Linked DNA regions of Homo sapiens. The protein of the gene in region 3 purifies or fractionates together with the protein of the main gene of each other region. This does not show direct contact. Each region holds a gene or a part of one and is shown on either strand. Other genes may lie near its edges. The genes, in order: OCLN, DNAJC16, DUOXA2 and LRRC8E.

What was found.
Region 1: the proteins of DUOXA2 (region 3) and OCLN purify together in Homo sapiens (co-immunoprecipitation; 2 studies listed by BioGRID and IntAct, with this or other methods). This does not show direct contact.
Region 2: the proteins of DUOXA2 (region 3) and DNAJC16 purify together in Homo sapiens (co-immunoprecipitation; 2 studies listed by BioGRID and IntAct, with this or other methods). This does not show direct contact.
Region 4: the proteins of DUOXA2 (region 3) and LRRC8E purify together in Homo sapiens (co-immunoprecipitation; 2 studies listed by BioGRID and IntAct, with this or other methods). This does not show direct contact.

What each region holds. Positions count from the first base shown.
Region 1 is NC_000005.10:69,544,784-69,551,806, reverse strand, and holds part of OCLN (occludin), read right to left. Parts: intron 6,904-7,023; coding exon 6,688-6,903; intron 3,878-6,687; coding exon 3,706-3,877; intron 264-3,705; coding exon 222-263; intron 1-221. UniProt on the Homo sapiens protein: May play a role in the formation and regulation of the tight junction (TJ) paracellular permeability barrier.
Region 2 is NC_000001.11:15,564,834-15,571,856, reverse strand, and holds the end of DNAJC16 (dnaJ homolog subfamily C member 16 isoform 1 precursor), read right to left. Parts: intron 5,939-7,023; coding exon 5,858-5,938; intron 5,776-5,857; coding exon 5,677-5,775; exon of another isoform or gene 5,447-5,676; intron 4,759-5,446; coding exon 4,588-4,758; intron 4,080-4,587; coding exon 3,680-4,079; 3' UTR 124-3,679; downstream 1-123. UniProt on the Homo sapiens protein: Plays an important role in regulating the size of autophagosomes during the formation process.
Region 3 is NC_000015.10:45,110,006-45,117,348, reverse strand, and holds the start of DUOXA2 (dual oxidase maturation factor 2), read right to left. Parts: upstream 3,024-7,343; 5' UTR 2,744-3,023; coding exon 2,597-2,743; intron 1,551-2,596; coding exon 1,493-1,550; intron 1,226-1,492; coding exon 1,091-1,225; intron 885-1,090; coding exon of another isoform or gene 834-884; coding exon 620-833; intron 259-619; coding exon 44-258; intron 1-43. Other genes in the region: DUOX2 (dual oxidase 2 isoform 2 precursor), read left to right, coding at 3,938-4,007, 4,273-4,362, 4,631-4,795, 5,394-5,581, 5,764-5,965, 6,072-6,238, 6,639-6,699, 6,825-6,921. UniProt on the Homo sapiens protein: Required for the maturation and the transport from the endoplasmic reticulum to the plasma membrane of functional DUOX2. May play a role in thyroid hormone synthesis.
Region 4 is NC_000019.10:7,891,509-7,898,531, forward strand, and holds part of LRRC8E (volume-regulated anion channel subunit LRRC8E), read left to right. Parts: intron 1-2,064; exon of another isoform or gene 2,065-2,351; intron 2,352-3,011; exon of another isoform or gene 3,012-3,831; intron 3,832-4,090; 5' UTR 4,091-4,095; coding exon 4,096-4,233; intron 4,234-7,023. UniProt on the Homo sapiens protein: Non-essential component of the volume-regulated anion channel (VRAC, also named VSOAC channel), an anion channel required to maintain a constant cell volume in response to extracellular or intracellular osmotic changes.

The DNA.
Region 1 (7,023 bases), on a different chromosome or scaffold from region 3:
GCATACGCAGGTATGTGGTCACATTGTGAAAATTCACCATGTTATACACTTTGATTTATACACTTTTCTGTATGTATACTTCAACTTTTAAAAAATATATAAAATAAAAAATGAAAAACATGTAATAGAAAAGCTCTTCCTCCAGATGAGTAGGTATGGGAATTAAAATAAAAAGAAGAAGAAAGAAAGTTCTTCCTAAAAGAACAATCTCGGATACTTACTCCCTTCACTTGCTTCAGTCTATTGTATTCATCAGCAGCAGCCTATTAACGACAGACACAAAGGAATATGTTTACTGGGGCATTTTCTCTTTTAAAAGTAACATTCCTGATGTTATACTTTGGAGCTAAAAATGACAGCTTATGACAAAAATATAAGCAATTAAAAGAATGAAGTCGTAAAGCTCTTAAAACTCATGATCAGCAGGAAGGTCTGAAGGAATTCAGTGAAGAGACATTTATGATACTGTATCTTTCACATTTCACTCACATAGGCAGGTAACTATCTGTTCTGCTACTTCTCATCTCTCCTCATGCCAGTCCCCATGCTACATTGACACCAGGAAGATCTTTTATAACACAGAGCGCTCGCTGATCAGGTAATATCCCACTACACAACTGGTCTGAGCTTCCCATTAACTTCTCCCCTCATCCAGTTTCCTACCTTTCCAGTCTCAGTACCCATCATCAGCAACTCCTTTAAAAACTGAGACATGTTAAATGCTTCAGGATTTCAATCATGTTTTCCTTATGGCTGTAATCATGCACCTCCCCGCACCCTTCTGTCTGGAAAGCTCTTAACGATTCCCTCACTGTGAAGCCTCCAAAGACTTTATTTCTTCTATGAGCAGTTAGTTATAGTGCTTTCTACACATGATGCAAATACAGCATTAATCATACTGTCTAAATTGTTTAGATGTCAGGTTTTTTTTCTTAAAATATAAGCTCTTTTAGGGTGGGGACAAGATTTTATGTCTCTAGCTCCAGCATTTCCACATCATCAAAGAAAAATAAGTGATCAATAAATGTTCACTAAATTAAGAAAGATCTATAACACCCTATAGAAACCATAAAAGAAATACATAAATCTAACTATATAAAGATGTGAATACGTCAAAACTAAAAAGTAGATCACCTCAACTGAAAAATGGCAGAATATTTAATGAGATGTGCATCAAATGAGTCCTGTATTGTATCAAGAGGGAGACACAGTTGGTGCAGTCTCTCTGGAGGGCAATTTTGCAACTTTGCAAAGGTACGTACCCTCTGACTCTCAGCAATTTCACATTCTGGAATTAGTTTTAGTTAGATAAGCAGGCTGGGCACTGTGGCTCACACACGTAATTCCAGCACTTTGGGAGGCCAAGGCAGGCAGATCACCTGAGGTCAGGAGTTCGAGGCTAGCCTGACCAACATGGCAAAACCCCGTCTCTACTAAAAATACAAAAATTAGTCAGGTGTGGTGCCACATGCCTGTAATCCCAGCTACTCGGGAGGCTGAGGCGGGAGAATCACTTGAACCTAGGAGGCGAAGGTTGCAGTGAGCCAAGATAGCGCCACTGCACTCCAGCCTGGGCGACAGAGCAAGACTCCGTCTCAAAAAAAAAAAAAAAAAAAAATTAGATAAGTAGACAAGAGTGCAAAAACAGAGAGGTTCACCAGTATATACTGGTACTACTGGAGTAGGGGGAGACATACTTAAATGTCTATCCATAGAAAATGACTCTTAAATTATGATACAACCATAAATTTGAAAGTTGTTTACCTAATTTTACACATAAAAAACTTAAAAGTAAGTAGGTCTTTATTATTGATATAAAAAAAAAAACTTGCTGTTAAGAAAAGCCAGAAATAAGCAGTGCAAGGAAGTTTTTTTGTTTGTTTTTTTTTTAAAGATAAAACCCCACAATAAGAGTATGTCAAAGGGACACGGGAAGCAACTGAAAGTTCCCAACCGTCAAAGCGAGAACAATTAGAGCTACAAAATAAAGCAGCCTTGGATTATAATTCACAGTATAAAACAGGTATCTGTAAAGTCCATACTTACGTAAGTGATTGACTGATCAATAAAGGAACAAATAAACAAGAAGAGATTAATCTCCCTCTAAAAGGTGGTGTAACTACATTAATTTCAGTATGTATACAAAATACAGTATGAAAAGGATGGATTGAAAAAAAAATCCAGTAACTTTACATGGACAAATTCTATCTCAGCCAGGTGATCAAGGGAGGGAAAAAAAAAACCCATAAACTGTTGATTTAAAAGACAGGAAGAAAATAAGTGAAACATGGAAGATGATGTTTCCTTAAAGAAAGGTGTATGTGCCTTGGTGACTCCTGCTTGGAGAGATTGTTTTAACTAATATTTTGGTGATAAGGATTTCTTGATGGTAGGATTTAAGATGATTTCTTTTTCTGTATACAGTTCTGTGTTACTTAAGTTCTTTTTTTTTTTTTTTTTTTTTTTGAGATGGAGTCTCACTCTGTCACTCAGGCTGGAGTGCAGTGGCGCGATCTTGGCTCACTGCAAGCTCCGCCTCCTGGGTTCACACCATTCTCCTGCCTCAGCCTCCCAAGTAGCTGAGACTACAAGTACCCGCCACCATACCTGGCTAATTTTTTGTATTTTTTTTTTTTTTTTAGTAGAGACGGGGTTTCACTGTGTTAGCCAGGATGGTCTCGATCTCCTGACCTCATGATCCGCCCACCTCGGCCTCCCAAAGTGCTGGGATTACAGGCATTAGCCACCGTGCCCGGCCGCTTAAGTTCTTTTCTACAGAAAGAATGAATGGCTTTATAAATAGGAAAGATAATAAGGCTATTTTATTATTATTATTATTAATTTTTGAGATGGAGTCTCACTCTGTCGCCCAGGCTGGAGTGCAATGGCGCAATCTTGGCTCACTGCAACCTCCCCCATCCCAGGTTCAAGCAATTCTCCTGTCTCAGCCTCCCCGAGTAGCTGGGATTACAGGTGTCTGCCACCATGCCCTGCTATTTTTTGTATTTTTAGTAGAGATGGGGTTTCACCATGTTAGGCACGCTATTCTCTAACTCCTGACCTCAGGTGATCCACTTGCCTTGGCCTCCCAAAGTGTGGGGATTATAGCCATGAGCCACCATGCCCAGCCTGGCTATTTTATTTTAAATAGGAAAGGATAGATGTACATAGAATAGTGCTTTGTAGGGGCTGGGCGCGGTGGCTCACGCCTGTAATCCCAGCACTTTGGGAGGCTAAGACGGGCAGATCACGAGGTCAGGAGATCGAGACCATCCTGGCTAACATGGTGAAACCCCGTCTCTACTAAAAAAAAAAAATACAAAAAATTAGCCGGGCGTGGTGGCAGGCACCTGTAATCCCAGCTACTTGGGAGGCTGAGTCAGGAGAATGGCGTGAACCCGGGAGGCAGAGCTTGCAGTGAGCTGAGATCACGCCACTGCACTCCAGCCTGGGCAACAGAACGAGACTCCACCTCAAAAAAAAAAAAAAAACAGAATAGTGCTTTGTAATTATTAACTATTATACATTAGTACAATCTTCTATTAGGAAAGAATTTCATCCAAAACCCAATCTCAACTATTCTTCAATGAAACTGCAGTTTGATAACTACTAGCACATTTTTATCAACATTAATATAAAGGATGCTGTACCTCCACAGATTAGATTCAAATTCTGTTTAATATATAAATATCAGGTTGAATTTACCATGTACTCTTCACTTTCTTCTCTATAGTCATCCAATTCTTTATCCAAACGGGAGAGTTCTTTATTGATCTCATCAAGTTCTGATTGTAAGCTCTTGTATTCCTGTAGGCCAGTGTCAAAATTCCTCTTGTACAGTTGTCTTTGTTGATCTGAAGTGATAGGTGGATATTCCCTAAAAGGTGAGAGAGAAAATGACTACATATGTATCCTTAGCAGACATAAAATTCAATGCTCCTTCCTCAAAGATAATAAAGCTGGTTGGGTATGGAGAATGACATTTTCTTGTTTCGTTTTTGTTTCTTATGGGGAAAGAGAGAGAGAATACAAATAAGTTCTATTAAGAGTGACTATATATTACTGCTCATTTTTTAAAAAATAAAAACTATGCCTACGTAATTTGCAGAAATAATTTTGAAAATCATTTACAAAATTGAAGGTACAAGTCATAGGAACTCACTTATTTCCCATACACAATATCAATAATGGACTACTTATGTTTATAAAGTTTTTCTTTTCTTTTTTTTTTTTTTTTGAGACAAAGCCTGCTCTGTCACCCAGGATGGAGTGCAGTGGCACAATCTCGGCTCACTGCAACCTCCACCTCCCGGGTTCAAGCGATTTTCGTGCCTCAGTCTCCACAGTAGCTGGGATTACAGGTGCCTGCCACCACGCCCGGCTAATTTTTGTATTTTAGTAGAGACAGGGTTTCACCATGTTGGCCAGGCTAGTCTCAAACTCCTGACCTCAGGTGATCCACCTGCCTCAGCCTCCCAAAGTGCTGGGATTACAGGAGTGAGCCACCATGCCTGGCCTGTTTAAAGTCTTAAAACTGGAATTCTGGAACACAAAGTCCGCTTTGATCACCACAGTGGCAGCACAGCTGACTGGAAGTGGCTGTTTCCTGCTACCACCCATAGTTTTCAGACTGGTTTATTTATTTTTTTGCTCTTGTTTTTCCGAAGTGGAAATAGCTTATCTACTTCTTTCACAATAAAAATAGACATTAAAAATGTACATGTATAAAAACATGTGCTCACTGTTAAAATAATCTGGCAATTCATTAAAGTATAAAGAAGAAAAACTGAAATTTTGTATCACATCTATTTCTCAATATACCAGCCACTCCTTACATAGGAAGACGATGCCATTAACCCATAATCCATAGAGAAAATACTCTGAATCCTTTCACAGGACTGGAGTTTCACAATGATGTGGAATTTCAAATTTTAGATCTAACAATCTAACATCTTCATTTTACAGAGGGGAGAAATTTAAATGATTTGATCAAAAGGGAAACAAGAATTTCAGATTTTGAAAATTTTCAGGCTGGGCATGGTAGCTCACCCCTGTAATCCCAGCACTTTGGGAGGCCGAGGTGGGTGGATCACCTGAGGTCAGGAGTTTGAGACCAGCCCAGCCAACATGGTGAAACCCTGTCTCTATTAAAACTACAAAAATTAGCCGGGTGTGGTGGCGCATGCCTGTAATCCCAGCTCTTCGGGAGGCTGAGGCAGGAGGATTGCTTGAACCTGGGAGGCGGAGGTTGCAGTGAGCCAAGATCGTGCCACTGCACTCCAGCCTGGGCAACAGAGTGAGACTCTATCTCAAAAAAATATATAAAGTTTTCAGTTAAATCTTCCGTGATACAAGTTAGGTGAATATTTTACAGATAGATGGCTAAGCCAGGCCAAAAACTCTTGAGGGGAGAGGGGAAGATAAAGTATCAGAATCATCAGTGAATAGGGGATCTCAAGCTACCCATGCCCCGCCTATCATTCCTCACTCTCTGAGAAGCGATGTTTTGATTACCATTCACATTGCAAATGTTTCTGATGTGCGTCTTAGTCCTCAGAATACTTGGGCATAGGAAGGCTACACATCATACACAAATACATTTGGTGATGGTGGATGGATTGTAACAAAACCACCAAAACACAAAGAAACTTAACCACAACTGTGGCTGAACACTAAATTGTTACCTCAATTGTTTACGGAACTCTTTGGATTAAACTTTAAAAGAAACTCTCGTCTTATCATTTTAAGCTTAATTTAAAAAATAATTGCCGGCCAGGCGCGGTGGCTCACTCCTGTAATCCCAGCACTTTGGGAGGCCGAGGCAGGGAGATCATCTGAGGTCAGGATTTTCAAGATCAGCCTGGCCAACATGGTGAAACCCGTCTCTACTAAAAATACAATAATTAGCCGGGCATGGTGGTGGGCGCCTGTAATCCCAGCTACTTGGTAGGCTGAGGCAGGAATTGCTTGAACCCGGAAGGCAGAGGTTGCACCGAGCCGAGATCGTGCCATTGCACTCCAGCCTGGGCGACAGAGCAAGACTCCGTCTCAAAAAAAAAAAGTAATGCCAAAGGAAAACCATAGCACTGGTTTGGGAATTTTATAATTAGTAAAACAAAGTTCTTCTATACCTGGATTTTATTTATTTGAAAGGCCTTTGGTTGTTTTTTGAGATAGGGTCTAGCTCTATCACCCAGCCTGGGGTGCAATGATGCAATTATAGCTCACTGCAGCCTTGAACTCCTGGGCTTAAGCAATCCTCCTGCCTCAGCCTCAGCCTCCCGAGTAGCTGGAACTACAGGCCCACACCACTATGCCTGGCTGGTCTTGAACTCTTAGCCTTAGCCTCCCAAAGTGCTAGGACATCTTTCTTCCGTGACTATTGGTATAAGAAAGAGCACTGGTGAAGTTCACCAGCCACACTGTGGAAAGTTCAAAGTGGTTACTGCCAAAGTTCAAAGACATGGTTACTGCCAAACATTCTCTCCACTTCAAACTTTGTCACAAAAGGGTGCTAAGGAAAAAACCAGCCAACACCACACAAAAAACTGTCTCCAGTCCTGGTTGGCAAAGAATGAAATTACACCAGTGACCTCAATTTGGGAGGCAATAACTCCAACACCTGGTTGGTCTCCTTTAATTATCAGAAGGAGCACGTGGGCCAGGAAAGGAGAGCTGAGTCGGTACCTGATCCAGTCCTCCTCCAGCTCATCACAGGACTCGCCGCCAGTTGTGTAGTCTGTCTCATAGTGATCTTGCTCTGTTCTCTTTGACCTTCCTGCTCTTCCCTTTGCAGGTGCTCTTTTTGAAGGTGTCTCAAAGTTACCACCGCTGCTGTAACGAGGCTGCCTGAAGTCATCCACAGGCGAAGTTAATGGAAGCTCCTGAACCACTTCAGGAACCCTAATAAAAACAGGCATCATTGTTCAGTACACTACAGCCCTTTGCCAGTGCACTGTAATCACAGAGCACAGCCATAATAAACACCAGCAGACATCTGCACGCAGGTGCACTCACGCGAGG
Region 2 (7,023 bases), on a different chromosome or scaffold from region 3:
CCTGAAATCTGCAGTTATGCTGTGGTGATCTTAAGCGTGTCTTGAGTTCCATGCAAATTCAATTCTGTTGATAATGTGTCCATAATCAAATCATCATCTTGCAATGCAAGGGCTACCCCATAATTATCAGACATTAAAATAGTTTATTTCTTTTTCCATTCTGTAATCTTAAAATAACATCAGCTTCAGTGCCTGTTCACAATACAAAAAAAGTCAAAAAACAAAAACAACACCCAAAACATAAAAAAGAAACAATTTGCCAAATAAGTTATTTGTTCCTAAGAGTATCAAAAGTGCAAAATATTCACCTTCTTTTCAGATCTCTCCCAAGCATAATTATCCTCCTTGACAAACTGAACAGACAGATTCAGCAGCTGCCACACTGCACTTGTTTTTAGGGGACAATGTCAGACAGGTGGATGTGAACTACAGTTCCTCTGTAAAGATGTTTGGCATCAGCTTTTAAAGAATTCTAGTTAACAAAACAGGTCTGAGTATGTGCTTCCAATCTCTATTCCCAAACAAAGGAAATCACTAAAAAAACAGATCACACTTCTTTTTATAACAGAAAAATATTTATGTAATGATGGCAGCTGCAAATTGATTGGGATGTTAATAAATAAAAAGGAACAAGTATCAACAAGCTGCAAATGAGGAAGAAACCAACCTACCTGAAAACTACAACCAAATTCTCATGGCTAATAAGTGATGGCAGTGAGACCATGGCCCCTAATGGAAGTTAGGGCAGCCTCACCCACTGAAATGTTGTTTAGTTGGAGCTGATAGCCTCAGTGTTAGATAAAAATTGTGCAACACCTGAGCAACAAATTTTTTTTTTTTTTTGGAAATTGGCATGTATTCTGCAAAGACTTGTTTTAGGCCAGTTTTACCCCATCTGCTAAACGCAATGCATAGTCTGTATCAACCAGAAGAACCCATCTCTAAAAACATCAATGTTGATAGTCAAAGACCACTGTGTTAGAACCAAAATCAGGTCTTGTATGATTACATACATCAGACAGAGCAATGGTGGCACAGGCTGAGCATGACAATGGCTCATATGTTTGACGCAAAAGTAAACAAATTCATGGATGCATTCAGGAGGAATGCCTTGCATGGACAAGGGTAAAGTTCAATTTAAAATAAAAGCTCCCTAATATTCTCATAGGGCACCAGCTCTAAACCGGTCTGTAGAAGAGCTTTTGGGCTGAAACATCTGCCAGGAACATTGCCAATCCCATCACTACCTTCATTTCCTAGTGCAAATGGAAGGTGCAGCTGTTTGAAGGTGCTTTTTAAAAGATCAAAAGATGACTTGAAGAGATAAAAATGTTTAAAAATGAACAAATCTGGCATGGTGGCTCATATTGATAATCCCAGCACTTTGGGAGGCCAAGGTGGAAGGACTGCTTGAGGCCAGGAGTTTGGGACCAGCCTGGGCAACATAGCAAGACCTCGTCTCTATTAAAAAAAATATAAATAAATACACTTGGAGAGTTTTTGGTTTTCAGAAATTAAAGTCAGGAATTTCATTAGTACAGAAATTAAAAATAAAAACCTACTACCAAACCAAAAGACCACTCATATAAGCAATCTGGCCATAAAATACCTAGAAAGTAATATTGAGGACTGATGTATCAAGGAGCCAAATGAATTCCTTGACCATTTCTAGTTGGACCAGGTGCCATGAGATACAGCATTCAGAGGAAGTGTCCATTTTTAGAGGATCATATGGAAGAATGAAGCCTGGCAGTGATTTATTTTTTAATAAAGCTACAGACTCCATGAAAACTACAGGAATTCCTGGCCTTAAATAATTTATTACTTACCAATGTAGCTCAAGATTTAAATTATTCAGGATCCAAGTGGCTTAGTTTAAAGCATTAAGATTAAAGAAATACTAACTTAGCCGGGAGTGGTGGCTCACGCCTGTAATCCCAGCAGCACTTTGGGAGGCTGAGGCAGGCAGATCACCTGAGGTCAGGAGTTCATGACCAGCCTGATCAACATGGAGAAATCCCGTCTCTACTAAAAATACAAAATTAGCCGGGCTAATTACATGGTGGCACATGCCTGTAATCCTAGCTACTCAGGAGGCTGAGGCAGGAGAATCACTTGAACCTGGGATGTGGAGGTTGCGGTGAACCGAGATCGCACCATTTCACTCCAGCCTGGGCAACAAGAGTGAAACTCTGTCTCAACAACTAAAAAAAAAAAAAAAAAAAGAAATACTTAGTAAATGTCCCATCACTGATTTTCACCCTTCACAAAGCCACCAAAGGCACCTTGCTTTGACATTTGAACGGACCACTCTTTGAAGCTGTCCAAACTCAAACTCAGAACCACTGGTCATTCTGCCCTGAAAAATAAAAGGTATGCTCTCTAACTGGCTGGTATGAGGCACCCTGGGGTCCACTATACCTGGAGCTCAGCACGCTCAGGTGCTGATGGCCAGTCTGACCCCAATACTGGTGAAGCAGCTCTAAGTTAAGAGTGAAAACAATGAAGATGAGACATCAAAATACAGCCCAGAAGTGGAAAGTAAGCCTTTTGCAAAATGGGAGTCTAGAACAAATCTTGGCTCACTTCCTGCAAAAGATGACTTGAAGAGACAGCACTTTTAGGGTAACAGTGTTCAAAATACAATTGTTGAGAAATTTTAAGTTCCTTGATACAAAGACATGTTTGGTATTTTACTAAAGAGACACTATTGAAGAGATTCCTTAAGCCTGACTCATAGCAGGTGGGAATAATTTCTCTTCAGTTTAACATCTACTGGCTTTATAGCAGCTTATCTCTACGTTCAGAGAACAAGATTACAAGTTATGGCTCCTAATATCCATACCCTAAAATCGACAGAGGCAGAAAGGCATCTGAAGACATACATGTCAACGGCTCAAAGTCATCACAGTACTTCTCGCTGTGCAGACCCCTCCCCTGGCTACCAGCAGCGCTGGGGCGGCGGATGGGATGCTCACAGCGTGTCTCAAGGCTGCATCGCTTCAGCCACTGCTCAGCCTCCCTTTCCTTTTCTTGAGAACTCACATGCAGAACTCCCGTTTATTCCTTTCCTTTTCAACCTGTGGCCAACAAACTGTTGTTGGGGGATACCCCCAAAATATACATTTAGCCACTTACTCCCAGAACAACCAGTAAACGTGAGATTGCTTGGAAAGGGGCCTTTTTCCAGATGCGGGGCTAGAAGCTGCCGTGGGTTGTTCAGAGTTAGGAGCATGCGCCATGGCAGCAGCACAGCAGGGCCGGGATTGGGGAAGGGGCCAATGACCTGGCCTGCACGACAGGCTCATGAGGGTCCGCCAGATGCCGCTTGCAGGGTGGAGCCCTGTGCTTCTCCAAGACACAGGACAGGAGGGTGGGGTGAGCATGGGACAAGGACAAGAAAGGAAGAGGGGATGAGCAGTCTATTTTCAATGGTGTGGCATTCAGTGGGGAAAAATAACACCCAGAGGAAAAGATTTTCATCTAGGCGATTCAAACTGGTGGTGTTTTTCATTCCTAGGTTAGAACAGGACAAAGGAAAGATTCTTCTAGCCATGGTTCTAGAAGAGCAATCTAAAATCTATACTCTGTTCATTGTGGTAGTTTGAGTCCTGAAAATACCTGTTCACAGGGGCATGTTAAAAAGTCTGAAGAGTTCAAATCTCTTTGGAAAATCCTCTCAGTCTAGTTCAGGCCATGATGGGATATAAAACCTCTGTAAGGAGCCCTCCAGCAGGCGTTCCATCCATAAAGAGAGCTTGCTCAACTTTCCTTTGATGGGCCTGGATCCAAGGCCACAGGAAGGTTTCCCTCGAGATTCACCCAGGTAGAGGGAAGAGTCAACATCACTGCACGACCCTATGGCTTCCTCCTCTTCGACTGTCTTTTGGGGCTTGAAGAGGCAGAAGTATTTCTTGTGGCCATTCAGAGCCAGTACATAACCAGTGTAGTCACGCTCCATGAAATGCTTATCATATTGGTTTGGGATTGGAGCTGCATCTTGAGCAAATTCTAGTAAGTATTCTAGCCATTCTCTGTGTTTATCTAGACTCAGGAAGGAGAAGTGTAGGCAGCTGCTCCTGTAGGAAGAAGAGAATTGAGGACTCAGGGCATTTCCTGACACATTTAATTGCTGAGAAAATAAATACCCCAGTGAGACTTAAAATAATAGGAAAACGCTTTGTGTTGGATGGGGCCTGAACACAGAGAAAAAGAAGGCCTTCTGTGGGAGCCAGTGCCTCTCCAGCAGCTGCGACACTTCAATCACCCATTCCCCCATCGCTTGCTCGGTGGAACTTAACATTGCTCTTCTGGAAAATACACAAGGGCTAGAGAACAGTAACTGAAAGGGCTCAGGGAATAACACTGAGTTCAAGCTTTTCTGTTCAGAACCAACAAAACACGAAGTGAAGTGGGAAAAGAGGTCCCTGTCGCAATGGCTCAGATGTCTGGATTGGAAAGGTCACAGCCAGCATCTTGCTGTATGGATGAAGCCCCACAAGACCAAAGAGAAAAGCGTGCAATTTCAGTGTGCCTGCCTCTCTCTCTCTCACACACATACATACATGCACACACACACATGCTTACCCAGTAAATGTGTAGACCTCCAAAGCAAATTTCTGTAGTAGGCTGGTCTTGGTAGAATTCGACAGGATGAGGACCACATTCATGTGGCCTGGCCTCAGACGTACCAAGTTACTGGTGTATGTTACATCTGTGAGTTCAGTTACCTCCACAAAGCCTTTTTTAGGAATCTTGCTGTGGAGAAATATTGAGGAGTTAAGATGCTGTCAGGATAGGGGGAAAGCCGTTACTTTGAAAAGAAACAGCTGAAAGAAAATGCTATGTTCTAACCAGACTAGGTATGTTATTCACTATTCTTGAGTCTAACACATTGGTAGGATGGGGATGGCCTGACTTGGTAATCCCTGACCTACAAACAGCCTTTCTGTGCTGCTTTTCTTTTTCTTTTTGAGATAGGTTCTTGCTCTGTTTTCCAGGCTTGAGTGCAGCGACATGATCATGGCTCACTGCAGCCTCGACCTCCTGGGCTCAAGTGATCCTCCTACCTCAGCCTCCCAAGTAGCTGGGACTACAGGTGCCTGCCACCACATCCAGCTAATTTTATAAGTTTTTTGTAGAGACAGGGTCTTGCCATGTTGCCTAAGCTAGTCTCAAACCCTGGGCTCAAGCAATCCTCCCACCTAGGCCTCCTAAAAGTCTTGGGATTACAGGCGTGAGCCACTGTGCCCTGCTTGATGCTGCTTTTCAGGTGCAGAAGTTGCTCTAGGACAGAATGAAGAAGACAACTATCATTCAGTCTATGTTCTTTGTCTCGGAGACCCTGGCCTCTTGCTGCTGGGTGTGTGTGCGCACAAGACTGGTTACGTTCATTGACATTTACAGGGATAAACCACGTCCTGCTTCTGGCTCACCTAACACTTGCCTGATAGGCTTCTTTCCTTCTGCCTTCATTATGAAATCTAAGGCATCTAAACACCTACAGGGTCTTAGTAAACACAAATCACAGTGACTTTTCCCTGTAGCCACAGTTTACATGGGAGGAGGTGCATGAGAGTTCTTCTCTACACTCTATGTTCCAATGCTGCGTTATCAGATGACAGGATCTGGGGGGCAGGTGCCGGGGAGGTGAGTCTGGTGTTTTGTTAGAGAAACCTGCTGTTTTCTTTGGTGAAGCTTGGCTCAGTTTTCCCAGTCTTCTCTTGGGCTTCCTCTTTTTCTGGAGGGCTTGACTCTCGCTCATCATTAGAGTCGCTAAAGTAAGAAAAAAGGAGTTTTACAAAAAAAGTGTCAACACCAACCATGGTGGTGCACCGAGAAGCCACAGGACATTTACCTGAAAGCCTGAACGATGACAGTGCCGAAGAGGATGAAGAGGGCAGAGAAGATCAGGGACAGCAGGGGCATCATTTCCCTCCTAAAACCAAATTAACAAACTATTAGCTCAAGTTAAAATTTCTTCTCTCCAGCTAAAAAAAGATAAAATAAAAATCCCAAACCAAAAACTCTTCACACCAATAAACGCTTACTAATTTCAGGCAAACAGAGCTTTTCTTGGCGGGTGGAGGTGGTGGAGGGGAAGGTAGAGATTGCTCAGTGTTCTAATTCACAGACAGCTTATTCTAAAAGTTTGATTTTGTATCTCAGTATAATAGGCTATGCTCAATAAGTTCTGCATGAGGAAACAATAAAAGGGATAATAAAGGACTTAAGGTGTAAACATGGAAGAATTTTCTGACATTGTGGAATTATTTCCTCAACTTTACTGATTTTTTTCTGGCCAGAAAAATTCAGATGTAGCCCAGAGGGGTGGAGTAGGGAGATAAAATTGATCTTTCAAGATTTCATCTAGGACTGGTGTTCTGAAATTTTATGTACCTACCAACACCCATCAAAGGCTGTCATTTGTCAGGTGCTGTGTTGGGTGCCAGGAATCACAAACACGAATGAGATGTGGTTCTGTCCTTCAGGGGCTCATGGTCTCATCAGTAGGTGGGAGTGGGTATCCCTCTTGAGGTTAATTCACTCATTCCTTTTACATCTATACACTGGACTCCACGTGTGTCAGGCCCTGTGCTGGGCACCAGAGGTTCCCTGATGAAGAGACAGTCCCAGGCTCTGCTGCCCAGAATGGCAGCCATGGGTGATCCTTTCCTAGCCAGTGGGAAAGGGTCAGTCAGCCAATATAAAAAAAGGGAAGTGGCCGGGCATGGTGGCACACGCCTGTAATCCCAGCACTTTGGGAGGCTGAGGTGGGTGGATCACCTGAGGTCAGGAGTTCGAGACCAGCCTTACCAACATGGTGAAACACTGTCTCTACTAAACATACAAAAATTAGCTGGGCATGGTGGTGGGTGCCTGTAATCTCAGCTTCTCGGGAGGCTGAGACAGGAGAATCGCTTGAACCTGGGAGGCAGAGGTTGCAGTGAGCTGAGATCGTGCCACTGCATTCCAGTCTGAGTGACAGAGTGAGACTCTGTCTCAAAAAAAAATAAAAAATAA
Region 3 (7,343 bases):
GTCTCCACCCTTAGCCCCCGGGGCCCATTCTCTCGGTCCTCACCGGTTGCCAGCGTGACCCAGAAGGCGGCGCCGTACTGAGTGGTGAGCGCGGAGGAGCCTAGGCGGAGCGGGCAGAGCGGCACGCTAGAGATGGAGGCCAAGGCGAAGACCCCGAAGAGCGCGAAGGCTCCGGTGGTCAGCAGTGCCAGGCCTCCGTAGAGCGGGGCCGGCGTGGAGAGCAGCACGTTGGAGAGGAGCCAGAAGCAGAACGCCACCCTGCCGGGGAGTGGGGGGACCCGCTGTGAGCGGGCTTCTCCCAGCCCACCGGGGTTCCCACAGCTGCGCTCTTCTTTATCCCTACCCCAGCGTCAAAGCCAGGGACTGGGATGGCAGCGGTGCAGGGGAATTCCCCGGGGGAGAAGCGGGCTCCTGAGGTCCAGGCGGTGGCTGGAGTCTCTCCGGATTCCGTCTGTGCAGATCTCGTGGATCTTCTAACCCGCGAGGCTGTCATGCCCACCCCGAGCGCGTCGGGTCTGGCTGCAGCTGCTCAGCGCCTCCGAGGCCTGCATCCTCCCGCTCATACGGCCCAGCTCCTGGCACACACACACGTGCACACAGCCTTCCCTCCAGCACTTACCATAGCGTGGCCGAGGCGTAGTGTCCCGCCAGGTGGTACTGGTGGTACAGGCCGCAAGGGCTACTCGGTGTGAACTTCTCCGCCAGGTAGAGCACTGGGTCCGGCAGCCCCTTCTCCAGTGCGTTCGCGTACTCCGCGGCGTAATTCTCTTTCAGACGCCAGGTGAACTGCTCGTTGTAGTCAATGGTCTCGTTCAGCTGATGCACTGGGGTCCCTGTGGGGTGAGGCGGGCTCATGGGGCTGCCCGCGGTCGGAGACCTCGCAACTAAGCGGATTCAGACAGGAAAGTGGGGGTGTGGCGCTCTCGGCGGGAGAAATGGGTTCGGTGGTGGTTGGAGAAAACGCAAATCCACGAGGACCACAAGCTATTTGAGCTTGTGGGATGTGAGAGGCCCTCCAGCTATCCCTGACACACTCACCTAACCGGGGATCTCCCAGCTCCAGGAGTTCATTTAGCCCCAGCCCCCTCACCTGTGAGTGTAATATTAATGCCCTCCAGGCCCACGAGCAGACGGACACGGGCTGTAACGCGCGCTGCGCTGAAGGCTTTGTAGGATGTGTTGGTGTTCACTGTACCCACGAACCATTCTGCACTGAAGTGCACAGCTGTAGGGAAAGGCACACGGTGGGGGTGGGATGAGGGTGGGAAAATGGAATTAGAGAGTGGTATGGGAGGTGGGACACTGCAGAGAGATGGGGACTTAGAGGTCCAATGTGGTTGCATGGTAAGGGCCAAAAAGTGGGCCCTAGAAGGAGCTGGAGAGTGGGAAGAGGGAGCAGAAAACCAACCCCAGTTCCCTATTGTCCCAGGTGCCCTCTGCCCACCTCCTTCCTCACCCCGTCCTCTCCCCATGGGCTGCACCACACACTCACCCACAATTTCTGCGCCTATGAACAGACTGAGAAGAACTCTCACCAACCAAAACCAGCGCTGCAGGAATAGGCACCCGGGTCAGGCCTGAGCCCTGCCAAACCAGAGTCCCCAAGACCACCCTTGACCCCACTTCACCTGGATCTTTAGTTATATCCAGACTTTTGAGACTAATGTTAGGCACGCTTTTCCTGCAAGTCCCTCTGGGCTACTGGCATTTCTGATATTTTGTGACCACGCACTTTCACCTCCCTAGCCCCATTTCCCATCTACCCTAACAGCACCTCCCCTCCACCCCCACTTCCTGGCACTCTTCCACCACCTTCACTCCCCTAGCTGTCTGGCGCCTGGTCCTGGTTCTGCCTCCTGGTCCAGTCACTGCTTGGTGAGGCTCAGTGAGTCCAGAAGTGCTAGGCACGCAGGGGTCACCTCCCTCAGAAGAGGGAGGCCCCAGCCTGATCTCCGAGGGGAGGAGGTGGGAATGCAGATACTCCTAGGTGCACCAGTTCCAGGGAAAGCAACACAGATTAAGATGCAGAAAAGCTGGGTCCTCCCAGAACTGAAAAATGCACAACCTAGGTTCTGGGAGAGGGGGAAAGTCTAAGACAATGCACCCAGTTGGCTCCAACTTCTAATCCAATGTGGGAGTCTCAGTCCTGAGGATGAGGCACCCATACACATGTGTCTCAACCCAGTGCAAAGGGGAACACTGCAGTCTGAGCTGCTGGCATCTGTCCTTTTGGCCTGAAGGTCATCACCCACCGGATGGGATGAGAGTGCAGCTTTAGTCCTGGGAGAGGTGGGAGGCCCTCCAGCACAAGAAGCCTAGACTGTTCCTCAGGATTACTGGACTGGGTGCCCATTCTCTGCAGCAGCCTTCCCAAGGACCCAGCTGGGGTCCTTCTCCAGGATATCCTGGATGGGGAGCTCTCCCTATCCTTGGAAAGGGGTGCTTGCTGCACCAGACTCCTGACTTCACTCCACCTGAGCCTCAATTCGACTATTCATGGAGGCTCTTGTACAGTCTTACCTGTCCTGGGTCCCTCAGGAGACAATCTGCCCATGAGCCTTCCCCCACTCTACCTGCACTATGAGGACACCCTTACCGAGTGGCCACGGATCCCCGGCAAGATGAGCAGGAAGCTTGCTGCTAGAGCCAAAAACACTAGAATAACGATGAGCAGTGGAACGCTGAAGCCTGCGGCATGCCGGGGCTGGGGGTAAAAAGGCAGTACGCCGTTCCACAGGGTCATGCTGCACGCCGGCCGAGTGCTGCACGCAGGCGGGCAGGCAAGCCAGCAAGCTGGGGCTGCCTGGACGCGGGAGAGCGCGTCCTTGGCGTCTCTTTGCGTACAAGGCTGGGACCGAGTGGGCTGGTGAAGTCTGAGTCCTGCACCTCTCCGTTAAGGAAGCGTGGAGGTGGGCTGCTCTCAACGCTCTGGGGTTGGTACCGACAGAGTTTTTCTAGCCGGCGAGCGAAACTATTTCTCACTGTCTGTAGCCGTTACTTTCCTGGTTCTGCGGGTTGGCGCTGAGTTTGGAAGTCGCGCGGGACCCCTTTTATAGCAGCGTGGGCGACGTGCCACACGGGTGTCCCAGCCCAGGGGCTGGTCTGAGCTGGAAGAGGTTGTGCAAATAAGGGCCCCACCTCCACGGCAGGAGGGTGAGCCCTAGGTCCAGATGCTCACACTGGCGCAGGTCTGTCCTGAGCCGACACCTGCACAGTGGCGAGACCAAGGACCCAGAGAGAAAGGTGAGAGTGCAGCCGGGGAGGCTGAGGATCGGCGGAGCTGGAAGAGTGAGGGTGAAGGCAAGAAGTAGAGCACAGAAGCAAAGATTTTAAGAGGAAAGAAGACATCTGAACCCAACACCACCCTAAACCACAGGTTAGACCAGAGTTTGGGATCTGACCCTAGCCCTCGCCCATCATGCACAGGCGTTCATTGCAGAAGGGGAGTTTATTGGGGAAGGGGGGATTCATTGTGGAAGGGTGCTGCAGTCCCTCACTCCCAGGTCAGTAACCTTTTTCCCTTCCCTGCCTCCTGGAGGAGAAGCGGAGCCTGACGGATCGGGGGCGGGTGGAGGTGAAACATTGGAGACATTGGGCACACCCTGGGAGGCTTGACCAGTCCTGCCCTGGACTGACATGCCCCAGAAGACTCCTGCCCAGTGGGTTCCTATGGTCGGGGGTTAACTCTCTGATGGGGTGGCGGATGGGGAACAGTGTCAATGCCTCCAGAGCTGCCAATTGTCCTGGAAAGAGTGGCGTTTGGATGAAGGTCCTCGGTGATGCTTCTAACAGCTACCTTCCAGAAGTGGAAACAGCTGGTGCTCCTCCTCCAGTACTAGCTGTAGGAACAAGAGGGGAGGCATAGAGGACGCCCTAACAGTGGCTTTCGCATACCACCTACCACCCCCACCCTCACCCCGCAGGCTGCAGGGTTGGCATGCTCCGTGCAAGACCAGAGGCACTGATGCTCCTGGGAGCTCTTCTGACTGGATCCCTGGGTCCATCGGGCAAGTATCAGGCTCCTCTAGCGGCGGGGTGTTCCCCAGGATCCCTGGGAGGTGGGGCGGGGAGAGGTGCGGCAAGCGGCTCCCTGAGACTGGAAGGTCATTTCGCCGTGCAGCTCAGCGGGATGGGAAACTTCCCAGTGCGGCCCGACACTTGGGTCCGGTTAGGGGCGCTCCGCGAGCTGGGGAAGGACTGGCCAAGGCCTTCGTTGCTCGGGAGGGGTAGCTGGGAGCGTAGTGCTGAGGAGGCCCTTCTCTGTGCCCACAGGCAGTCAGGACGCACTCTCACTGCCCTGGGAAGTGCAGCGCTATGACGGCTGGTTTAACAACCTGAGGCACCACGAGCGTGGTGCTGTTGGTGCGTTCTGGGGGCCCGGGCGTGCTGGGGCCGTGGCTCGCGAAGGGCCGGGGCGCGAAAGGCCCTGAGCGGGGAATCTGCGGGGAACACGCGCCCAGCAGCTCCGCTGCCTACACAGCGCAATCTTATGCGCTCCCGGGGCCAAGAGACCCTTGAGGGAAGGTTCTGTCAGTGAAGTGGGATGGGGGTTGAGGGAGGCTTAGGGAGAGGTTTGGGGGATCCTAGGGGATGGAGTGCTTAGACAGAGCCCCGCTCCCTGCCTCCGCAGGCTGCCGGTTGCAGCGCCGCGTACCAGCCAATTACGCCGACGGTGTGTATCAGGCTCTGGAGGAGCCGCAGCTGCCCAACCCGCGCCGGCTCAGCAACGCAGCCACGCGGGGCATAGCCGGCCTGCCGTCGCTCCACAACCGCACCGTACTGGGGGTCTTCTTTGGTGAGGGCAAAGGGGGAGACCAGTGGGGTTGATCTGGCGCTCTGCTCAGCCTGGGGGAGGGGCCAGATCCCGTCTGCGAGTCCACAGGAGACCCATCCGACTCCCAACCACTTCCTCTCTACGCAGCACTTCGAGACTGCCTTCATCTCGGAGAGATTTTGGGATGTTGATACAGAGATATTTGCTCTGTATCTAACCTTTCTCTTACGCCTTATTCCAACCTAGGGGTGTCACTGGACCCCCATTATAGCTCTTGGGAACTGAGCTCCCCAGCCACCGCTCTCCTCACCGTGTGTTTGTAACCATTTTACCTCCCCCTAGCCCAGAGGGAGGAGGACTGACTTGGGGTACCCCTACATAAATTATATCATTTTGATTCTCACAACAGCTTTATGAATTGAGTAGGAAGGGAACTCACTATAGTCTTACTTTGCAGATTAGAAAATTGAGGCTACCTGGGGCTAACGTGCAGAGCTGGTGGCGGAGCTGGCACTGGGACCTCTGTCTTTTGGCTCCTGAGGACACTTGGAGGCCGCCCTGGCCGTGGGGAGGGCGCAATACGGACGGTTTGTCACGTATTGGCGCCCCATGCCCGCAGGCTACCATGTTCTTTCCGACGTGGTGAGCGTGGAAACGCCCGGTTGCCCCGCCGAGTTCCTCAACATCCGCATCCCACCTGGAGACCCCGTGTTCGACCCCGACCAGCGCGGGGACGTGGTGCTGCCCTTCCAGAGGAGCCGCTGGGACCCCGAGACCGGACGGAGTCCCAGCAACCCCCGGGACCTGGTGAGGCGGGGAAGGCGGCGGGAAGGGACCGCACCCCAGCCAGGTGGGGCCTGGGCTTCGGGCCTGGCAGGGCCTGGAGGGGAGAGGCGCCCACTCCCCAGCCGCGGACACCCGCCGGGCCCCGGCCTTCCCTGGCCCGCCGCCGCCTCTCGACCCGGGCTCACCCGCCGCGTGCCCCGCAGGCCAACCAGGTGACGGGCTGGCTGGACGGCAGCGCCATCTATGGCTCCTCGCACTCCTGGAGCGACGCGCTGCGGAGCTTCTCGGGGGGACAGCTGGCGTCGGGGCCCGACCCCGCTTTCCCCCGAGACTCGCAGAACCCCCTGCTCATGTGGGCGGCGCCCGACCCCGCCACCGGGCAGAACGGGCCCCGGGGGCTGTACGGTGAGGCCACAGGGGCGGGACGGGGCCGGCTGGGGGTCTGCGAGTGTGGGCTCCCCCGATCACGCTACCGCTCGTCTCCTCCCCTGCGCCCCCACGTCGGATGCAGCCTTCGGGGCAGAGAGAGGGAACCGGGAACCCTTCCTGCAGGCGCTGGGCCTGCTCTGGTTCCGCTACCACAACCTGTGGGCGCAGAGGCTGGCCCGCCAGCACCCAGACTGGGAGGACGAGGAGCTGTTCCAGCACGCACGCAAGAGGGTCATCGCCACCTACCAGGTCAGCCGTCCGCGCCCCGCGACGTCCTCCCTTCCGCGTGCAAGCCCACGGGAGACTCCGCTGCCCCATGGAGCTCCCCATCTGTGGACAACCGCCACCCAGAAACCCCTCCCCAGACAGCCGAGGTCTAGGGAAGCCCCTGTAAATGATAGGGAGGCACGCGCTGTTTATAGGAGAAATCTGGCTGGTGATGATTATTTATCACCTCCCCAACCCCCACTCCCTCAAATCCCCTGGTTCCTTGTGGGGACAGGCCTCACACTGCTCCTGTCTGAGTTGCTTCTCCCATGATTGACCCTTCCTGGTCTCATCTCCACACGGAAGCCGTCCTTGGGCTCAGACCCTTCCAGGCCCCACACCATCCAACTTGTGCCTCCCCTCGCCCCTCTCTGCCCCTCAGAACATCGCTGTGTATGAGTGGCTGCCCAGCTTCCTGCAGAAAACACTCCCGGAGTATACAGGTGAGGGAGCGGGGAAGGAGGACACCTGTGCGGAGAATCCTGAGGGGAAGGAGACAGGTGCCTGTGATGGGAGGATGTGGAGGCAAGAAGCCTGTCTCCCCATCATCACCGTCTCCTTCCTGCAGGATACCGTCCTTTCCTAGACCCCAGCATCTCCCCGGAATTTGTGGTGGCCTCTGAGCAGTTCTTCTCTACCATGGTGCCCCCTGGTGTCTACATGAGGTGAGGGAGGGGTTGGCAGAGAGGGGCACCACACTAAGAAAGGTGCAGAATGAGCTGCCTTGGGGGCTGGGGCCTTTCACACTCCTTCGCAGTTTCACTAGAGAAGGGGAAGCAAAAATTTGGGGCCCTGAAACAGAACCCTGGGGTAAGATGTGTAGGCTTAGTAGGGAAATCTCTCCAGCTCTCCTAAGGGCTGAAATTTGGTGGCTGGGTGTAGGATTTGTCTAGCAGCTGGGTCATTCCCTTCCCTCCTCTCCCCACCCTACCTGGACTAGGAGCGCACTCTATCTTCAGTAAACGCACATCACCAAATCTCTGCCGTGTTCAAGGAAGTTCCTGGGCCACTGCTCAATCCTAGTGAACCCCCACTGAGTCCCTCAGCCCACTCAACCCCATCTTTGATTCTTCTCCAAATTCCCTCA
Region 4 (7,023 bases), on a different chromosome or scaffold from region 3:
GTTGGTCCCTGCTCGGGTGTGTGTGTGTGTGTGTGTGTTTGTGTGTGTGTGTGTGTGTTGTGTGATTTCTTCTGCAGCCTCCAGAGTCAGGAGTTTTTGTTTTGTTTTGTTTTTTTGAGACGGAGTCTCGCTCTGTCGCCCAGGCTGGAGTGCAGTGGCGAGATCTTGGCTCACTGCAGCTTCTGTCTCCCGAGTTTAAGCAATTCTCCTGCCTCACTCTCCTGAGTAGCTGGGATTACAGGCATCCACCACCATGCCTGGCTAATTGTTTTTGTATTTTTAGTAGAGACGAGGTTTCACCATGTTGGCCAGGCTGGTCTGGAACTCCTGACCTCAAATTATCCGCCTACCTTGGCCTCCCAAAGTGCTGGGATTACAGGCGAGAGCCACCGCGCCCGGCCCCAGTCAGTAGTGTTTTGCTTGCTGTGTTTGAGATAGGGTCTTGCCCAGGCTGGTTCATGGCTCACTGCAGCCTCTAACTCCTGGGTTCAAGCAATCCTCCCACCTCAGTCTTCCAAGTAGCTGGGACTACAGGCATGCACCACCACACCTGGCAAGATTTTAGATTTTTTTTTTTTTTTTGAGACGGAGTCTCGCTCTGTCGCCCAGGCTGGAGTACAGTTGTGCAATCTTGGCTCACTGCAGGCTCTGCCTCCCAGGTTCACGCCATTCTCCTGCCTCAGCCTCCCAAGTAGCTGGGACTACAGGCGTCTGCCACTATGCCCGGCTAATTTTTTGTATTTTTAGTAGAGACGGGGTTTCGCCGCATTAGCCAGGATGGTCTCAATCTCCTGACCTCGTGATCCACCCACCTCGGCCTCCCAAAGTGCTGGGATTACAGGCGTGAGCCACCGCACCCGGCCCAAATTTTTAGATTTTTTTGTAGAAATGGGGTCTGACTATGTTGTCCTGGCTGCTCAAACTCCTGGGCTCAAGCAATCCTCCTGCCTCAGCCTCCCAAAGTGCTGGAATTACAGGCCTGAGCCACTGCACCCAGCCTGGGGTCAGCATTCTTAGGTAAAGCAACTGAGCAGTGTCCCTGCAGGATCCTTGGAGGACTCAATGGATGGCCGGAACCAAAACAGGACGTGAGGGTCCCTGGTGCTGGGTCCCTCCGAAGCTCAGTGTGTGTACTTGGACTTTATACCCTCGTGCACAAATATGCATGACCCAAAATGACCCCAAGCGTCCATTTTGGTGGGTGCAATGTACATATTCTTCCCCTGGGGACAGTTGAGCTATCCTGGTATGTTTCTACCAGATTACATACTGGTGACCCAGGCAGACTGGGATATTTGTAGTCGGGTTTCTTTTCTCTTCTCTTCTCTTTTTTAGAGACAGGGTCTTGCTCTGTCGCCCAGGCTGGAATGCAGTAGTGCAATCTTGGCTGACTGCAACCTCCGCCTCCCGGGTTCAAGGGGTTTTCGTGCCTCAGCCTCCCGAGTAACCGGGACTACAGGCACCCTCCACCATGACTGGCTGTTTTGTATTTTTATTTTTATTTTGTTTTAGTTTTGAGACAGAGTCTTGCACTATTGTCTGGGCTAGAGTGCAGTGGCGCAATCTCAGCTCACTGCAACCTCTGCCTCCCAGGTTCAAGCGATCCTCCTGCCTCAGCCTCCCTAGTAGCTGGGATTACAGGCACCTGCCACCACGCCCAGCTAATTTTTTGTATTTTTAGTAGAGACGGGGTTTCATCACGTTGGCCAGGCTGGTCCCTAACTCCTGACCTTGTGATTTGCCTGCCTCGGCCTCCCAAAGTGCTGGGATTACAGGCGTGAGCCACCGCACCTGGCTAATTTTTGTATTTTTAATAGAGACGGAGTTTCACCATGTTGGCCAGGCTGGTCTCGAACTCCTAACCTCAAGTGATCTGCCCACCTCGGCCTCCCAAAGTATACTTGGCTTTTTGCTTAGGGCAGGGAGTGTGAATGAGCATGAGGGCCAGGCCATGGTGCGAAGGACCCTGTGCTCTGGGCACCCCCTTGCATGGATCTGGGTCTGGGTGAGTCACTGCCTGAGTCAGGGAACCCATGACTTTTTTTTTTTTTTTTCCCGAGACAGAGTCTCGCTCCGTCTCCCAGGCTAGATTGCAGTGGCACGATCTCAGCTCACCACAACCTCCGCTTCCCGGGTTCAAGCGATTCTCCTGCCTAGCTGGGACTACAGGTTCATGCCACCATGCCCGGCTAATTTTTGTATTTTTAGAAGAGACGGGGTTTCACCATGCTGGCCAGGCTGGTTTCGAACTCCTGACCTTGTGATCCGCCTGCCTTGGCCTCCCAAAGTGCTGGGATTACAGACGTGAGCCACTGCGCCTGGCCCAACCTATGACATTTTACACTTGCATGGTGAGTCCCCGTGTGGGCAGGCTGTACCCACACCCTTGCCTGCCTATCTGATTCCCCAGACTGAAGTGGGGGCCTCTGAGGGGGTAAAAGGATGTGGTCTTTCGGGACTGCTTGGCCTTTAGCTTGGTGGGTGGAGCCTGTATCCTACCTTGTTTTAACCCAGGAGTCACCCCAAAATATGGGGGGGACACAAACTGAAAAGGGAGGCTCAGACATGTCAGAACCATTGGCTGAGTCGTGGGTCAGGGGACCAGGGTTTCCCTAGATTCTTCCTGGGGAGATGGATGGGGAGCCAGAGATAACTCCCTGATGGGCAGATGCCCTCCTTCTTGGCCCAACTCCTGTCCCGTTACAGATTATCTTTGTCTTTTGTTTTGTTTGTTTGAGATGGAGTCTCACTCTGTCACCCAGGCTGGAGTGCAGTGGCACGGTCTCACTTCACTGCCACCTCTGCCTCCCCGGATCAAGACCCTCCCACCTCAGCCTCCAGAGTAGCTAGGATTACAGGTGTGTGTCACCACACCTGGTTAATTTTTTGTGTATTTTTAGTAGACTCTGGGTTTCACCATGTTGGCCTCACTGGTCTCGAACTCCTAACCTCAAGTGATCCACCTGCCTCAGCTTCCCATAGTGCTGGGATTACAGGCATGAGCCACCGCGCCCAGCCCCAGTTACAGATTATCTATCTGGACAAGGACAGGAGGCTCCCAGGAGTGGGGGAACTTGGATGTTGGCAGAAGTGGGCTGGTCTAAGGTTCCCCACCTTCCTTGTTCCACCTCCAGCCTCTGGGGAAGTAGGTACCTGCCTGGGAGAGTGACATCTCAGCTCATGCCCCACGCCCCAGTGTGATTTGTGGCTGGCCTGTCTGTATCTGTAATAGTGATAGCTTGGTCTAAAAGGAGACCCTGGGAACAGACAGAGTGGGCCGGCCAGGAGCCTGACAGCACAGCCCTAGCCTGGTCGCAGATGTCACCTGACAACTTTCCATTTGCAAATCCTCCTTCCTCCTCGGACATCCGGACACCCCATTGCCCCCTCTCAGAGCCCAGGTCTCTGGTTTCTGCCTGTGATTCTGGGCTGTAGCCCCTTTAGAAACTCAGGTGTCCTGGTCACCTCCTACCCCCAGGGCTGACTAGCCTTCAGCTTGGCAGTCCCTGCCCCTGGGGCCCTAGTAACCAGAGCCAGGCTCCAGCCGGCTTTTCCGGTTAGAGGTTGGAGGTGGTGCCCAGAGTGCCCCTGGAGGGGGTGGAGGGGCCTACGCCCCGGAAGTCCTGAGCCTTGGAACGCTTTCAGGCCTGGTGGCGGTGGGAGCCGGGGCTGGCCCAGACGCTGAGTGTCTGCAGTCAGGGAGCATCGAGGCAGATGTTTTCAGGCCTTGGTGTCAGGGGTGGGAGAGGGATGCCTCGTTTTGGGGAGGGGGCCACCCGAGGAGGCTGGAGGGCGGCGGCCCTGTGGACTATCCCTCATGTGCTCTTCGAGGTCAGACAAGTCAGATCAGGTGCAGGGGTGCCCAGAGGGGAACAGTGGCCGCTTGGTTCTGGGCAGGTGGTGACGTCTGCATGGAGGGTGACTAAGGCCAGGCTAAGAGGGAAGTGGGGGCACACACTTTGGTGGTTTGGACAAGTTTGGGCAGGGAGGGTCACAGGCCTGCCTGTGTCCGGCTCCTCGGAGGACCCCCTGCAGAGCCTCCCATCCTGAGGGTCTCTCTCTACACCCCCCGTCTCGTCCCGTCCCACAGGCAGCATGATCCCAGTGGCCGAGTTCAAGCAGTTCACGGAACAGCAGCCTGCGTTCAAGGTGCTCAAACCCTGGTGGGACGTGCTGGCCGAGTACCTCACCGTGGCCATGCTCATGATTGGGGTCTTTGGCTGCACCCTCCAGGTGAGGCCCTCCCCTGGCAAGGGGGTGTGACCAGAGGGGCGGGGCAGGTGTCTGGGGAAGTCGGGAAGCCTTCTCATCACCCAAGAAAGAGAGGAAACTGAAGACAGAGCCCCACTCAAAGGCCAATCCAGACCCCTTATCTTCCTTACCTCCATAGCCAGGAGCACCGGAGTCCCCACATTGCTATGCCATTCCATATCTTTTTTTCTTTTTTGAGACGGAGTCTCACTCTGTCACCCAGGCTAGAGTACAGTGGCATGATCTCAGCTCCCTGCAACATCTGCCTCCCGGGTACAAGCGGTTCTCCTGCCTCAGCCTCCTGAGTAGCTGGGATTACAGGCGCCCACCACCACGCCTGGCTAATTTTGGTAGTTTTTTAGTAGAGATGGGGTTTCACCATGTTAGCCAGGCTGGTCTCGAACTCCTGACCTCAAGTGACCTGCCTGCCTGGGCCTCCCAAAGTGTTGGGATTACAGGCCTGAGGCACTGCACCTGACCCTTTCTTTTTTTTTCTTTTTTTTTTTTTTCTTTTTGGCTAAAAAGAGACAGGGGCCGGGCATGGTGGCTCACACCTGTAATCCCAGCACTTTGGGAGGCCAAGGTGGGAGTATCACTTAAGGCCAGAAGTTTGAGACCAGCCTGGCCAACACGGTGAAAACCCGTCCTTACTAAAGACACAAATATTAGCCAGGCATGGTGGTGGACACCTGTAATCCCAGCTACTTGGAAGGCTGAGGCAGGAAAATTGCTTGAACCTGGGAGGTGGAGGTTGCAGTGAGCCGAGATCATGCCACTGCACTCCAGCCTGGGTGACAGAACGAGACTCCATCTTAAAAAAAATAAAATAAAATAATTGAAAATTAAAATAAAGAAACACGGTCTCATTCTGTCATCCAGGTTGGAGTGCAGTGGCATGATCACAGCTCACTGCAGCCTTGAACTCCTGGACTCAAGTGATCTTCCCGCCTCAGCCTCCAGAGTAGCTGGGATTACAGGCACACACCACCACGTCCAGCTAATTTTTAAATTTCTTGTTGACACAGGGGTCTTGCTATGTTGCCCAGGCTTGTCTCGGACTCCGGGCCTCAAGCCATCCTCCCACCTCGGCCTCCCAAAGTGCTGGGATTACAGGTGTGAGCCACTGTGTCCAGCCCCATATTTTCACAATGCTCAGTTTTATCCCTAGAATCTGGAAAGGACTGCAGTTGCTATATGAGTTTGTTACTTCTGTTGTAACAAAGTAGCAGGGATTGAGTGGCTTAAATAACCAGAAATGTTTCCTCTTCTGGGTCTGGTTCTGGAGGCCAGAAGTCTGAGATCAAGGCGTCAGTTGTCAGTGAGGGAGAATCTTCCAAGCTTCCCTCCTAGATTTTTGCAGCTCCAAGAGTTCCTTGGCTTGTAGATGACATTCTCCCAGTATTTTTCTTTTTCTTTTTCTTTTTTTTTTAGACAGAGTCTCCCTCTGTCGCCCAGGCTGGCATGCAGTGGTGCGATCTCGGCTCACTGCAACCTCCGCCTCCCGGGTTCCAACAATTCTCCTGGCTTAGCCTCCCAAGTAGCTGGGATTACAGGCGTGTGCCACCACGCCCGGCTAATATTTTTTTGTATTTTTAGTAGAGACGTGGTTTCAGTATGTTGGCCAGGCTGGTCTTGAACTCCTGACCTCGTGATCAGGATCAGCCTGCCTCTGTCTCCCAAAGTGCTGGGATTACAGGCATGAGCCACTGCGCCTGGTCGAGACAGTTTTTTTTTTTTTTTTTTAAGCAAGCTCTGTCACCTAGGCTGGAGTGCAGTGGCGCAATAATAGCTCACTGTAACCTTGTACTCCTGGCCTCAAGCAATCCTCCTCTACCACCCCCGCTTGGCCCCCCCTCCCACTGCCTCCCAAATCACTGGGATTACAAGCCTGAGCCACCGCACCCAGCCTCTCCCTGTATCCTCACGTCATCTTCTGTCTTTGTGTCTGTCTCTGTGTCTATGTTTCCCCTTTCTCTAAGGCGCAGTCATACTGGGCCCACCCTACTGGCTTTGTCTTGACTACCTCTGCAAAGACCCTATTACCAAACAGGAGCCGCCTGACCCAGCTCAAATAATACCACATTCTAAGGATTCGGAGTTGGGACTTCAACATCTTTTGTGGGGACACGATTCAACCCAGCTCCTTTTCTCAGACAAAGACCAGTGCTTTGTCAGTTGTGGTGGCTCATTCCTGTAATCCCAGCACTTTGGGAAGCTGAGGCAGGGGATCACTTGAGGCCAGGAGTTCGAGAGCAGCCTGGCCAACATGGTGAAACCCCATCTCTACTAAAAATACAAAAATTAGCTAGGCGTGGTAGTGCGTGCTTGTAGCCCCGGCTACTCAGCAGGCTGAGGCAGGAGAATTGCTTGAACCAGGAGGGGAAGGTTGCAATGAGCCAAGATTGCACCACTGCACACAGCCTGACAGAGCGAGACTCTTGTCTCAAAAAAAAAAACCAAAAAAAAAAAAAACAGTGCTTAGAGGTTTAGCAAAACTCTTCCAAAATCACAGCTGGCTGGCAACAGTCAGAGATGGGGGGTGCGGGGGGTCTCCCACCTTCAGCCTGCTTTTTCCCCATCCCCCTCATTTTCTCTCTTTTTTAAATTAATTTATTTTTGAGACAGAGGCTCACTCTGTCACCCAGGCTGGAGTACAATGGCGCGATCTCGGCTCACTGCAACCTCCATCTTCCGGGTTCAAGCGATTCTCCTGCCTCAGCCTCCCGAGTAGCTGGGATTACAGGTGCCCACCACCATGCCCGGCTAATTTTG